2 linked regions of the Homo sapiens genome follow. The protein of the gene in region 1 purifies or fractionates together with the protein of each later gene. This does not show direct contact. Each region holds a gene or a part of one and is shown in the gene's direction. Other genes may lie near its edges.

Evidence for each region. The genes of interacting proteins can lie anywhere in the genome.
Region 2: the proteins of PUM1 (region 1) and SEPHS1 fractionate together in Homo sapiens (co-fractionation; 2 studies listed by BioGRID). This does not show direct contact.

Annotation. Positions count from the first base shown.
Region 1 is NC_000001.11:30,930,989-30,936,725, reverse strand, and holds the end of PUM1 (pumilio homolog 1), read left to right. Parts: coding exon 1-83; intron 84-949; exon of another isoform or gene 950-1,037; intron 1,038-3,383; coding exon 3,384-3,515; 3' UTR 3,516-5,220; downstream 5,221-5,737. UniProt on the Homo sapiens protein: Sequence-specific RNA-binding protein that acts as a post-transcriptional repressor by binding the 3'-UTR of mRNA targets.
Region 2 is NC_000010.11:13,345,294-13,352,593, reverse strand, and holds the start of SEPHS1 (selenide, water dikinase 1), read left to right. Parts: upstream 1-4,300; 5' UTR 4,301-4,594; intron 4,595-4,894; exon of another isoform or gene 4,895-5,317; intron 5,318-7,300. UniProt on the Homo sapiens protein: Synthesizes selenophosphate from selenide and ATP.

The DNA of each region.
Region 1 (5,737 bases):
TGAAGGACCAGTATGCCAACTACGTGGTCCAGAAGATGATTGACGTGGCGGAGCCAGGCCAGCGGAAGATCGTCATGCATAAGGTAGGCCGGGCTGGGCAGGGTCTCAGAGAAAGTGTGCAAGGCCTTGGCTTCCTTTCTGAAACACAAAGGAGGGTGGGTGCCCTGCTGTTTTTGAAGAGTTTGTCACTGACCTCTGTCCCATGCTGTGTTCTGTTTTTCTTTTATGTGGAGTCACCATTGTCCTTACACATTTGCCAACCCTCCCTTATCAATAGCCACACTGGTATGAGAATCTTAAGCTACATTTTTTGAAATATTTCCATCCCTGATCTCTAGAGAATCAGCTTATGAGTCCAACAAATCAACTTGCCTCATTTCCTTTTCTCACTCCTCCCTTCTGTTCTTTCATCCCACCAACATCTATTGAACAAAGGCCTGCCCAGCATGGTGCATAGCCTGGTACATTGACCTGAAGCCCACTCTGTGCCAGACTTCATCAGCACAGAGATGACTAACACCTGATCCCTGCCCACAGAGTACATTCTGGTGGGGAAGAGCCATGGTGGTGAGCAGTGGTGAGGACATGAGAAGGACCCCTCACCCTTCCCAGAGTCCCTGAGGGCCGGCTTTGCAGGAGAAGGCAAGGCTAAAGAAGAGTTAGACAGGGAAGAAGGAACAGAAATGAGAATGCTTAGGTGCTGTGAGTGGGGAACTGAAAGAGAAGTCACCTGAACAGGCCCACAGCTTCTTGACAAGTCACGGCGTGGGTCCAGTGAGCACTGCAGACACCACAGGGCCCAGGAGGCAAAACAGACCCACAGGCAGGGTGTGCTACAGTTGTGTTTGTGCTGGGCAGTGCCTCCAGCCTCCGGTGCTTCTCATCTGAGCCTGCAGCTTTTGGGCTCTGAACTCACTGAGCCCTTCTCAATTGAGGGGTTGGTTGGCCATTGTCTGGCAATGATGACCCACTTGCCCTCACTGAGAACAAAGTTCGGTAATGAGAATCTTTGTTAATGGACTCAAGTTCTGAGCCAGACAAGACACCCACCACCCCTGAGTCAAGCTAAACCAATCCAAACCACTGCACTGGTGTTGGCAGTGGCAGTTGAAGGCTGGGGGAGTCCCAGGTTCTTAAAGTTGTAAGTTTTCAGGATGCTGGTGAAGGCAGAGGGAATGTTGGAGGTAAGTAGGAGCTTAAGACATGTCTATTCATTCATTCATTCAGTGCTAAACACCTGTTGTACAGCAGGTCGTATTCTCAGCAGGGTTGTATTGGTAAACGTGATAGTGCTGTGCACAGATAGTTACTGGGACACTGGAGAAATACAGGGGAAAGGGTTGTCCAGGAATGGGCAGGGTGTCTTCTATAACGTGTGGGTACAGAGGAGGCTCTCTAACGGAGTGATACTTAATAGAGTGATGACCCTTTCCAGAAGAGGGAACGTGGTGTGTGAAGACTTGGACGCCAGAGACCAGACCGTGTTGTATCTGAAGAAGTAAAACAAGTTCAGTGGAGGAGGAGTGTGGTGACAAAATCACACGTATATTTCAAATAATTGTCCTGGCTGCCATGTGGCCTTTGTAGTTTAGAGGAGGGAGGCAGTGATGAGACCACATGGGAGGCCGTCAAGGCACCAGATGGTGGTGGTTTGGGATTGAAGAGAAGTGGACAGAATAGGGTGCTAGAATTGGTAGGGCTTAGCAGTTGGTTGGCTGAGGGAGTTGACGGGGAGAGTCCTGAGAAGCCCTCTTAGTTTTTCAGCTCTTCCATTACTAAGTGGTATCCTTTTCAGCAAAAGGGACATAAGGAGAGAAGCAGGTAATTAACGTTTCACTTCTTGTTAAATCCAATAAAAAATGGAGTTCAACATGTGTGTGTGTGGCTTGTTAGGGGTTTTTTGTTTTGTTTTGTTCTGGGGAAGTACAAAGGTGAAGTGCCTGGACTTGTCAGCAGCCAGTTCCAGGGACAGAGGAATGGATTGGATTTCAGTTATTTTCTAAAAGGAAAGCTACCAAAAGCAAGGGGATCTTGAACCTCAAGTTCTCATGACAGAAACATTAGTAACATAGTATTACAACTGAAAGGAAAGTATAGCATTATTGCATACGCCGTTTTACAGGTGAGTTTAAGGGAGGTGAAACTGGAACCAAGGACTGTTTGCCACCAGCCAGTTTCCCCTGTAGGCTCCAAAGTGGGAATGTGACACCCGATGCAGCTCTGTGTCCTGGGAAGCATGCGCAGGTGATTTCTAGACCGGATCAACCCTTCCTTGCTTTGAGGACACAGCTAAACAGACAAAAATTGGTGCCCTCATGGAGCTCTCAACCTGGAGAGCCTCTGTCTACTGCGGTACATTTATCCAGTGCGTTTATGTATGCAGGTGCAGGTTTGGATGGGGAATCTGATGAATAAACTGTGGTCCTTTACTGTTTATATGGAAAGATTGATAATTAAGCAAAAGATAGCAGACACAGCTGAGGTATGTAGAATGCTCCCTGAGCTCACAGAAAAGAAAAGGGGCTTCCAGAGAAGAAGCACCTCTCAAGTTTTCTGGAATGTAGGACTTCTTGAAATGATCAGCCCAGGGAAGGAAGAACAGAAAGGAATGCTTGGAGAAGTGACTCAGAGCATAGGTCGGAGAGCCTGAGGGATGAGGCTGGTGTGGCGGGCGTGCCTTGAGAGCACAGTGGGGAGAAACCTGATTCGTGGAGGAGCCACACAGTTTGGGCTCAGCTATCTGTGCTGTCCTTTGTTAGCCATTCAACCTTGGCTGAGTGACTTAACTACTCTGTGCCTTCATGTTTTCTGTCAGTAAGATGGGGATAATCACACCAGCTCATGATGTTCATCATTTCTCTTCTTGTCATTGATTAGCTTTCTGTGATCCACTGTGACCTGGAGAGACAGGGTCAAGTGGTGAGCTCAGGATTCTGGTGACCCGAAATAACCCCCACTGCTCAGGAGAGCCTGGATGCCGTGCATGGGGCCAGAGGGGCCTGTGCTCATGCTTGCAGGGAAGCACTGTGCAGCTGGCGGGTAGTGGGCAGTGTATTTTCCCAGCTAGGATGCACTTTCTCCATGTGTTGTCCTGGGAGTGGCCCATGGCCACCCAGCCTCCAGGGTCCTCAGGCCCTGTGGCACCACTCAGGGTAGGAGCTCCTCTCCTCATCTGATGGGTTGCCAAAGTGCTAGAAGTCAGGGGACTGGGCTGAGCCAGTGAAAGGTATTGCTGTAGGGGTGTGTGTGTGTGTGTGTGTGTGTGTGTGTGTGTGTGTGTGTGTGTATGTGTGTGTGATGCATGACATGCAAATGCATGTCCGGGAAGCCTGCCCCCAAGTCTCATCTCAGGCCATGTAACACAGACTGTCTTTCCTCCCCAGATCCGGCCCCACATCGCAACTCTTCGTAAGTACACCTATGGCAAGCACATTCTGGCCAAGCTGGAGAAGTACTACATGAAGAACGGTGTTGACTTAGGGCCCATCTGTGGCCCCCCTAATGGTATCATCTGAGGCAGTGTCACCCGCTGTTCCCTCATTCCCGCTGACCTCACTGGCCCACTGGCAAATCCAACCAGCAACCAGAAATGTTCTAGTGTAGAGTCTGAGACGGGCAAGTGGTTGCTCCAGGATTACTCCCTCCTCCAAAAAAGGAATCAAATCCACGAGTGGAAAAGCCTTTGTAAATTTAATTTTATTACACATAACATGTACTATTTTTTTTAATTGACTAATTGCCCTGCTGTTTTACTGGTGTATAGGATACTTGTACATAGGTAACCAATGTACATGGGAGGCCACATATTTTGTTCACTGTTGTATCTATATTTCACATGTGGAAACTTTCAGGGTGGTTGGTTTAACAAAAAAAAAAAGCTTTAAAAAAAAAAGAAAAAAAGGAAAAGGTTTTTAGCTCATTTGCCTGGCCGGCAAGTTTTGCAAATAGCTCTTCCCCACCTCCTCATTTTAGTAAAAAACAAACAAAAACAAAAAAACCTGAGAAGTTTGAATTGTAGTTAAATGACCCCAAACTGGCATTTAACACTGTTTATAAAAAATATATATATATATATATATATATATAATGAAAAAGGTTTCAGAGTTGCTAAAGCTTCAGTTTGTGACATTAAGTTTATGAAATTCTAAAAAATGCCTTTTTTGGAGACTATATTATGCTGAAGAAGGCTGTTCGTGAGGAGGAGATGCGAGCACCCAGAACGTCTTTTGAGGCTGGGCGGGTGTGATTGTTTACTGCCTACTGGATTTTTTTCTATTAACATTGAAAGGTAAAATCTGATTATTTAGCATGAGAAAAAAAAATCCAACTCTGCTTTTGGTCTTGCTTCTATAAATATATAGTGTATACTTGGTGTAGACTTTGCATATATACAAATTTGTAGTATTTTCTTGTTTTGATGTCTAATCTGTATCTATAATGTACCCTAGTAGTCGAACATACTTTTGATTGTACAATTGTACATTTGTATACCTGTAATGTAAATGTGGAGAAGTTTGAATCAACATAAACACGTTTTTTGGTAAGAAAAGAGAATTAGCCAGCCCTGTGCATTCAGTGTATATTCTCACCTTTTATGGTCGTAGCATATAGTGTTGTATATTGTAAATTGTAATTTCAACCAGAAGTAAATTTTTTTCTTTTGAAGGAATAAATGTTCTTTATACAGCCTAGTTAATGTTTAAAAAGAAAAAAATAGCTTGGTTTTATTTGTCATCTAGTCTCAAGTATAGCGAGATTCTTTCTAAATGTTATTCAAGATTGAGTTCTCACTAGTGTTTTTTTAATCCTAAAAAAGTAATGTTTTGATTTTGTGACAGTCAAAAGGACGTGCAAAAGTCTAGCCTTGCCCGAGCTTTCCTTACAATCAGAGCCCCTCTCACCTTGTAAAGTGTGAATCGCCCTTCCCTTTTGTACAGAAGATGAACTGTATTTTGCATTTTGTCTACTTGTAAGTGAATGTAACATACTGTCAATTTTCCTTGTTTGAATATAGAATTGTAACACTACACGGTGTACATTTCCAGAGCCTTGTGTATATTTCCAATGAACTTTTTTGCAAGCACACTTGTAACCATATGTGTATAATTAACAAACCTGTGTATGCTTATGCCTGGGCAACTATTTTTTGTAACTCTTGTGTAGATTGTCTCTAAACAATGTGTGATCTTTATTTTGAAAAATACAGAACTTTGGAATCTGGGTTTGTGCTTTATTTTAACCTCTCCCCCCACCCCACCCCCAGTGTAGTTCCCCAGGACAGCCCTTTCCTGCTCATGCTTCTTTCTGCTTGTTTTGTTGTTTTGTGAGGGTGGGAGGAGAGGTGCCAAACTAATGGCTCTTTGAGCCCAATTTAAACCAAAGATGTTTGGTTCAGCCTGCCCAGTGCATTCAGAATCAAGATACTGCACATACAAATCCAGATTTCCAACTCTGCACATCAGAATATTCTCCTTGGGCCCCTGAGATGAGCTGTCTGGGTTACAGCACCGTCTGTCTGGGCCTCTCCTCCTCCGCGTTTCCTCTGTTTGGGCTGCTCCATTTGCTCCCTGCCAACCTGTGCCCACTACTGAGGCCTGCCAAGCAGTCCAATGTCTGAGCATGCTCATCTCTTCAGACTGGGGAGCCTCTTTTAGCTTGTAACACAGGAGGCTGGAGCTCACAATTGTGCCCGTGGCCCTAGCCTGAGGATGCCATCTGCCCTTCTTCACCGACTTTG
Region 2 (7,300 bases), on another chromosome or scaffold:
CTTGAAGGCAGCAAAGTGTGAACCAGCCCTTGGGGAGAATAATGAACATCAGGAATAACATACTCAATGATTTCTGAGGTGTCAGAAAAGCCCGGCTGGCACTGGGGGCTGACATGCCCATCATGGCAGGATCTCTAAGTTCTGAGTTTCCTCCAGCCCAGTGGAAGGACAAAGAAGGCAGGTAGAGGGGCTTAAGTTTGGACATGTGGGGGTGAACATGGTCAATGAAATGGGTTGAGGTGAGATGAGGCTGCAGAACTACCCTCAGACGGTCCAAGCTGAACAGAATGAAACGGATCCACTTCAGGAGACTGGTGGCCCCCATGAAGTTAGAGTGTGGGTGTCCTATGTAAAGAAGGGAGAGGACTCAGGGACGGGGGAGAGGGTGTTGGTGTTTAAGATTTCCAGGGTTAGCTAAGCATGGTAGTAGTCCCAGCTACTCAGGAGGCTGAGGTGGGAGGATTGCTTGAGCCCAGAAGTTTGAGACCACCTTGGGCAACATAACGAGAGCTCATCTCTAAACGAATAAAAAATGAAAGATTTCCAGGGCCGAGAAGGTTCACAGCACGGCCAAGACAATGGGTGTCTAAAGTGGAGTTAAGGTCAAGGTCATCAGATTTGCACATCCATCATCTAGCAGGTGCTATTCCTGAGAATGGACCCTCTCCATCCCCTGGGATGACAGAGCAGGGGCCACTTTTGAATGGGCATGATTCAAACCATGCAGGGGAGTGACACTTCTGGCAGCAGATGGTGGCAGTGTTGGATGGCATGAGCCCCGAATGAGAAGGGCAGGTGACAGGAAGGTGATGTCACTGGAGCTGCTTTTCTGTTTTGGGGTGAGCAGGATGTGGGGTATAGAACAGGCAGCCTCTCGTCCCTCTGGGTTTCAGAGGAAGTGGAATTCTTAGGTCAGTGTTCTTCAAAAGCATCAGAATCACCCAGGGAGCCTGGCAAAATGGGGATTCTTCACATCCCTTCCCCACCACATACACCTCCGACCTGCTGGAGTCTTTTCCCATGGCTGCCATAACAAAGGACCGCAAGCTGGGTAGTTTAAATCCCGGAGGCTGCTAGCGGGAAGCCAAGGTGTCGGCAGGGCTACGCTCCCTCTGAAAGCTCTAGGGAAGAATTCCTCCTTGCCTCTCCCAGCTTCTGATGCTGACGGCAACCTCCGCTGTAGCTTGTAGCTGCATTGCTCCAACCTCTGTCTCGGTCTTCACATGCATGGCCATCTTCCCTGTGTCTCCTCTGTGCCGCTGTCTCCAAATCTTCCTTTTCTTTTCTTTCTTTCTTTTTCTTTTTTCTTTTTTTTGAGACATCTTGCTCTGTCACCCAGGCTGGAGTGCAGTGGCATGATCCCAGCTCACTGCAACCTCTGCCTCCTGGGTTCAAGCGATTCTTCTGCCTCAGCTTCCCGAGAAGCTGGGATTACAGGCATATGCCACCACGCCCAGCTAATTTTTGTACGTTTAGTAGAGATGGGGTTCGCCATGTTGGCCAGGCTGGTCTCAAACTCCTGGCCTCAAGTGATCTGCCCACCTTGGCCTCCCAAAGTGCTGAGATTACAGGCATGAGCCACCACGCCCAGCCCAAATATTCCTTTTTTTCTAAGAATATGAGCCATAGGATTTAGGGCATATCACAATTGAGTATGACTTCATCTTACCTTGATTAAATCTGCAAATATTTTATTTCCAAGTAAGGCCACATTCACAGGTATGGGGGGCAGTGAGGATTTCAACACACCTTTTGTGGTGGACATAATTCAACCCATTGTATCTGCTAGCTGTAATCTTTCAAGTGAGTGAAGCTGGTAAATTAGTTCTTTTTGTTTTGTTCTGTTTTGTTTGAGACAGGGTCTTGCTATGTTACTCAGGCTAGAGTGTAGTGGCACGATTACAGCTCAATGTAGCCTTGAACTACTGGGCTCAAATGATTTACCTCAGCCTCTGAGGTAGTTAGGACTATAGGCATGCGCCATCACACCTGACTACTTCTTAAATTTTCTGTAGAGACGCGGTTTCATTATGTTGCCCAGGCTGGTCTCAACCTCCTGGCCTCAAGTGATCCTCCTGTCTTGGCCTCCCAAAGCCCTGGGGTTACAGGCACCCTGAGCTACCCTGCTCAGCGGTAAACTGGTATTTTTAATAAGCCCCAACCAGACAATGCAACCCAGGAGAACCATCTCTTGGACGGAACCAGCAGAGCCTGAGAATCCAGCGGGGATGGCTCCCTAGAATGGGGTTCTGGTGAGCCCGGGAGTTGCGGGGGAGCGTAGGACTAGCTCAAAGCAGTACCCAAGGAAGAAGCTCTCATCACCGGCAAAGAAAAGGATGCATGACTCTGCCAGATGATCTGGGCCAAGGCTGTAGTGTGGCCCTGGATGAAGTAAGGCATCTGTGGCTTACGGCCTCTGCGGCAGAGAACTGCTTCCCGGTGAGCTCGTGGTGGGTGGAGGCGGGGAGGAAGAGTCGGTTCTGAGGATGGTGGCCTCCCACCGACGCAGCGGGGATCGGCCTCTGTCCCGCCCAGCCACTTGATTTCCAAGTTCTGCAGAGCTCTGTCCAAGGTCTCTTTCACTTTTTTCCTGAGCTCTCCCTTCGGGGTTAATCTCACCTCTTACGGAGGCTTCGAACACCATTTACATGCTGATGGCACCCAGATTTGCATCTCTGAGCCCCATCCCCACACCAAATTCCGGACCTGTTTCCCTATTAACTTTGGTCTGGAATATCCGGCAGACCTGAGATTTGCAACTCTGAGCCCCACCCCCACACCATCCGGCAGACCTCAGATTTAACATTTCCAAAGCTGAACTCACCCCGAAACTTGTTTGCCTTTCAGCAGTTCTTAGATAAATTATTAGCATCGCTCCTCATTCCCTCCCCCACCCCCCACCCCCGCAAACTGGAAACCTGGGGGTCATCTTATCCTTCTTCCTCTCCTTCCTACGTGCTAAATCACACCAAATCCCTTCCCTGGGCTGCATTCCCCTTGCTTTCAGTTCAAGTACATCTCCGGGCTTGACTAGTACAATACCCTCTTAATGAGAACCGTGACCCTGTCTTCCCCTCTGGGAGAAGCCATCCTCCAGTGGCAGGCGCCTGTAATCCCAGCTACTGGGGAGGCTGAGGCAGGAGAATCACCTGAACCCAGGAGGCGGAGGTTGCAGTGAGCCGAGATCGCGCCACTGCACTCCAGCCTGGCGACAGAGTGGGACTCCGTCTCAAAATAAATAAATAAATAAATATAAAATAAAAGAATGCAGACTAACACGTTCTTTGCAAACTTACTACAGGGTATGAAGAAAGTACACAAAGACAGGAGCAGCCTGTCTTCGAGGTGGCATCACTTCTGCATCCAGCCCAGGATTAAAACCCGGAGCAACTGGCAAGCGGAAATGTTAACGAAAAGGGCATCTGCGTAGCGTGCCAACCTGCCGTGCCACGTAAAGCACGGTCCAGTGACCCAAAACATTTCTGCTCCCAAATAACATTTGGAAAATGCTGACCTACTGCCTAGAAAAGTTCGATCGGCATTCCTGCACACTGCTGTTTTAGAGAGAAGCCCTAAACGATATCTGAAAGTATTTGGTTTATTTTCATCAGCAATGCTTTAGAATCTCGAAAGCCCAGAAAAAAGTTATTTCACGACGTGAAGCTCCCCCCTCGATGTCAATTCGAACACATCCAGGGTTGCGGCTGCCATGTTCGCTCGAACATGTGCAGGACAAACAATGCAACCAGCGGGGAACCGTAAACCTTTTTCCTCGACTTCCTACCACGCACATGAAGTGTTCAAGAAACTTTGCAGGACGTCTCCACATTTCACGAGGCTCCCGTGAACTCCGGAGCCGAGCTAAACAATAGGAAGGACAGATGCTGGGAGTCCCCAAGCATCTAACGCGCCGTTTGTGTTTTCAAAAAACCTCTGCCTGGCGCCCAGGCGGCTTTTCCTGGGCTCCTAGCCTCCTGTGCAAATTGTTCCCATGGTCATTGTCTTCCAGGACGCTCCGCTGCGCACTCGGGGAGCGGGGACAGCGCCCCGCAGAGCGCCGCGCGGTCGAGCCCGGCCAGGTGGCGGAAACGTTCCCGGCCCTTGCAGCGGGGCCCGGGAAAAAGGTGGCCCGGGCGCCAAGGGCGGCTGCCAATGCAACTCGCAACTTTTGAAATCAATCCTTTTTTGCATCATGCAACGGATGCCACCGCTCCTCGGGTTTGCAACCCCCCACCCCTCCCCCGAGACCAATCATTGCCGCGCTCGGGGCTGCACGGCGCCCCCGCCCCCTTCCCGGGCCGCACGCCGCCACCCAGCAGCCAGGGCCGCCTCTTAAAGGGAGGTGGCCGGCCTTAAAGGACCCCCGCGCGCCCAGCCGGCGGGAGCGCGGCGGCCCGGCTCCCGCAGGGCCGCGCCGAGGCAGGCGAGCCCCCGCGGCGCCCAGGCGCGGGCCCGGGCCCCCGCCGCCGCCGCCGCCGCCGGGCGCGGCATTTTTATTCAGGCGACGCTTAAGGGAGCCCGGCCGCGCCCGGTGCATTGTGGGAGCGGCCCGCGGCCCGTTTTCGGGAGGAGGCGGAGGGCGCAAAGCGAGCCGGTAAGCGGCGGGCCCGGCGCGGGGGGGAGGCGCAGGCTTAAAGGGGAATCTGGGTCCGCAGGCCCGCGGCGGCCGTTGCAAATCCCCCTCCGGGCCGCCCGGGACCGCCGGGGAGCCGCGCGCCGCCGGCCCCGCCAGCCCTGCCTGGAGAGGGGCAGCGCCGGGCTTGGTGGGGCCGCTTTAAAAAAGAAGCGCCGCCCGCGCCGCCGCCGCCGCCGCGCGGGGCCGGGGAAGGAGGGAGGGAGGGCGGGGAGGAGCGGAGGGGAGGGCGGCGGCGGCCACGCAGGGGTTAATTTTTTCGCCCGCCGACATTTTTGCGCGGCGGCGGCGGCGGCCCGTGCGCGCGGCGGGAGCGGCCGGCCTGGGGTCGCGGGGTGCCTCCGGGGCCTCCCCGCCTCCCCTTTTCTCCGCGCGGGCCCTGTCGACCCGGGGCGGGTGCGTCCCGGCGTCCTCCCCGGCTCCTGGGCCGCACGCGCGGTGCCCGCCGGCTCCCGCCGCCTCCCGCCGGCCCGAACAGGGATGGCCCGGCCGGGGCCCCGAGCTGCCGCCTCCGCCCCGCCGCCGGCCCGCAGCCCGGGCCTGCTGGGCCTTCCGAGGCGGCGGCGAGGGCCTGAGCCTGAGCCTGAGCCCGAAGGTGTCCCCGGGTTCCTTGCTCCCCTCCCCGGCCGCCTCCGACGCGGGCGTCCTGGAGAGCGCGCCCCATTGTGCGGGGCCGGCGGGGAGGTAGGTCCGGGGTTGGCGGGGCAGCGCGCCGGGCCCACCCCGCTGACCGGCTCCCCGGCTCCCCACGCTCGTTGGAAGAAAAAAAAAAACCAAACCATGGAAATGTGCCCGGGAAGGAAAGGGCTAAACGTTGCTTTAAATATTCATGCCATTGTTTTAAAGGCGTAAACATGTGGCTGCGGGGTCGCCGGGCACCGTCCCTTATTAATGCAAATGGATCCCCCTGGTTCCCTAATCACTGCACATTTCCCCCAGAACCCCCTCCCCCTTCCCATGCCCTCCAAAAATGTAAGAATCTAGTACTTTTTTCATTAGGATGTGAGGCTGATTTGTGTCCTTAGTACCATTTGGAATTTTAAATCTGAGCGCCTTCCTGATACAAGGTGTTTTAAACTTTTTTCCACCCTTAAAACTCTTGAGAAGATAGTAATTTAAAAGGAAGTGATAGCCACACAATTCCCCTCCCCACCTTTTTGGGAGCCAGGAGAGGAATAGATAGGAGGTAGGAAAATAACTGGATGCCTCGTGAGTTGGATTTTTTCTTTTTCTTTTTTTTTTCCTGGTAGGGGTGAGGCTGTGTTAAATGCGAGGTGTTTTTTGAGGAAAGGACTTTGTTGTTTTTGTTGAAAACGCCTTCCAAGTCAAAGTGGTATTCAAACTTTCCCATAACTCTAAGATGGCTTCAAAATTCTCGTCTCTTGTCACTTGCGGCCAGCGCCTGCTCTTTTTGGGCAGGGAGACTTCTTGGAATCGTGTTCGAAGGCTGACTCCTGCTCAGTTGTTACGTTTCCCACCGAAATCATTGCTCATCCCAAACCGTGTTTTTGTGAAGACGGTTTGGATTACTGCCCAAACTCGGGCTTCGTGAGATTTATATGAGCGATGTGCGTCCCAAGGGATGGAAAACTCTATAAATGGGAATTATGTTCTTAATCATAAATTTTATAGGGGAAACCGACCTTAAAACTTGGGGTGTTTGTAATTCTAGTCCCAATAAAGTATCAGTCTGGAGGTTTGTAAACTCGAGGAACACATGTTGTTTTTTCCTTTAGCCCCAAAGGCTAAAAAACGTAGGAGTGCTTGTTCCAGAAACCTAACGGTGGTACACAGGGCCGAAATGCTGCTGATTTAGTATGGCTTAATTTATTGTTTCGGTTCTGCAATGAAATGTTAATGAGGAGTAGCATATTTTGTCAATGATGTGTGTACTAGTTTGTTGGGCTGGATGTTTTGCTTTCTAGGAAATAGCACTGCGTGAAAACATCAGAGAACTTTCCAGGCTTTCGCCTGAAGAACACAGACCTTACTGTGTTAAACTGCCACTGTAGTTTTTAAGTTGTGCCCTTTAGAGAGGACTCCTATTAGTTTTGGATTGCATTGTGTATTTTTTTATTTTTTATTTGAGACGGAGTCTCACTCTCGCCCAGGCTGGAGTGCAGTGGCTCGATCTCGGCTCACTGCAACCTCCGCCTCCCAGGTTCAAGCGATTCTCTTGCCTCAGCCTCCCAAGTAGCTGGGATTACAGGTGCGCACCACCACGCCCAGCTAATTTTTGTATTTTTAGTAGAGACGGGGTTTCGCCATGTTGGCCAGGCTTGTGTCCTGACTTCAGGTGATCCACCCGCGTTGGCCTCCCAAAGTGCCGAGATTGTAGGCATGAGCCACCACGCCCATCCTTGTGTTGTATATTCTTTGGGCTCAGAGGGAAAACGTGTTTTTCTAAAATAAGGATTTAGCATCGTGAAGAATTTTGTCCAATGCATTTACATTAATGCCCTTTTCTGACAAGTTTGTATCGGGCGTTTCATTCTTCTGTGTGATAAAGCAAAAGATATCAAAAGATTTTGCGGAAAAGTCACCTTAGCGAGGACCGCCGCTTTCTGAACCACAGTGCTTCCAGGTTGACACATGAAGTGCCCAGAGGTGCTGTTCTAATGCTGAGTCCTAGAAGAACCTTTGGGATTTGCTGTTCAAGGTGGCACG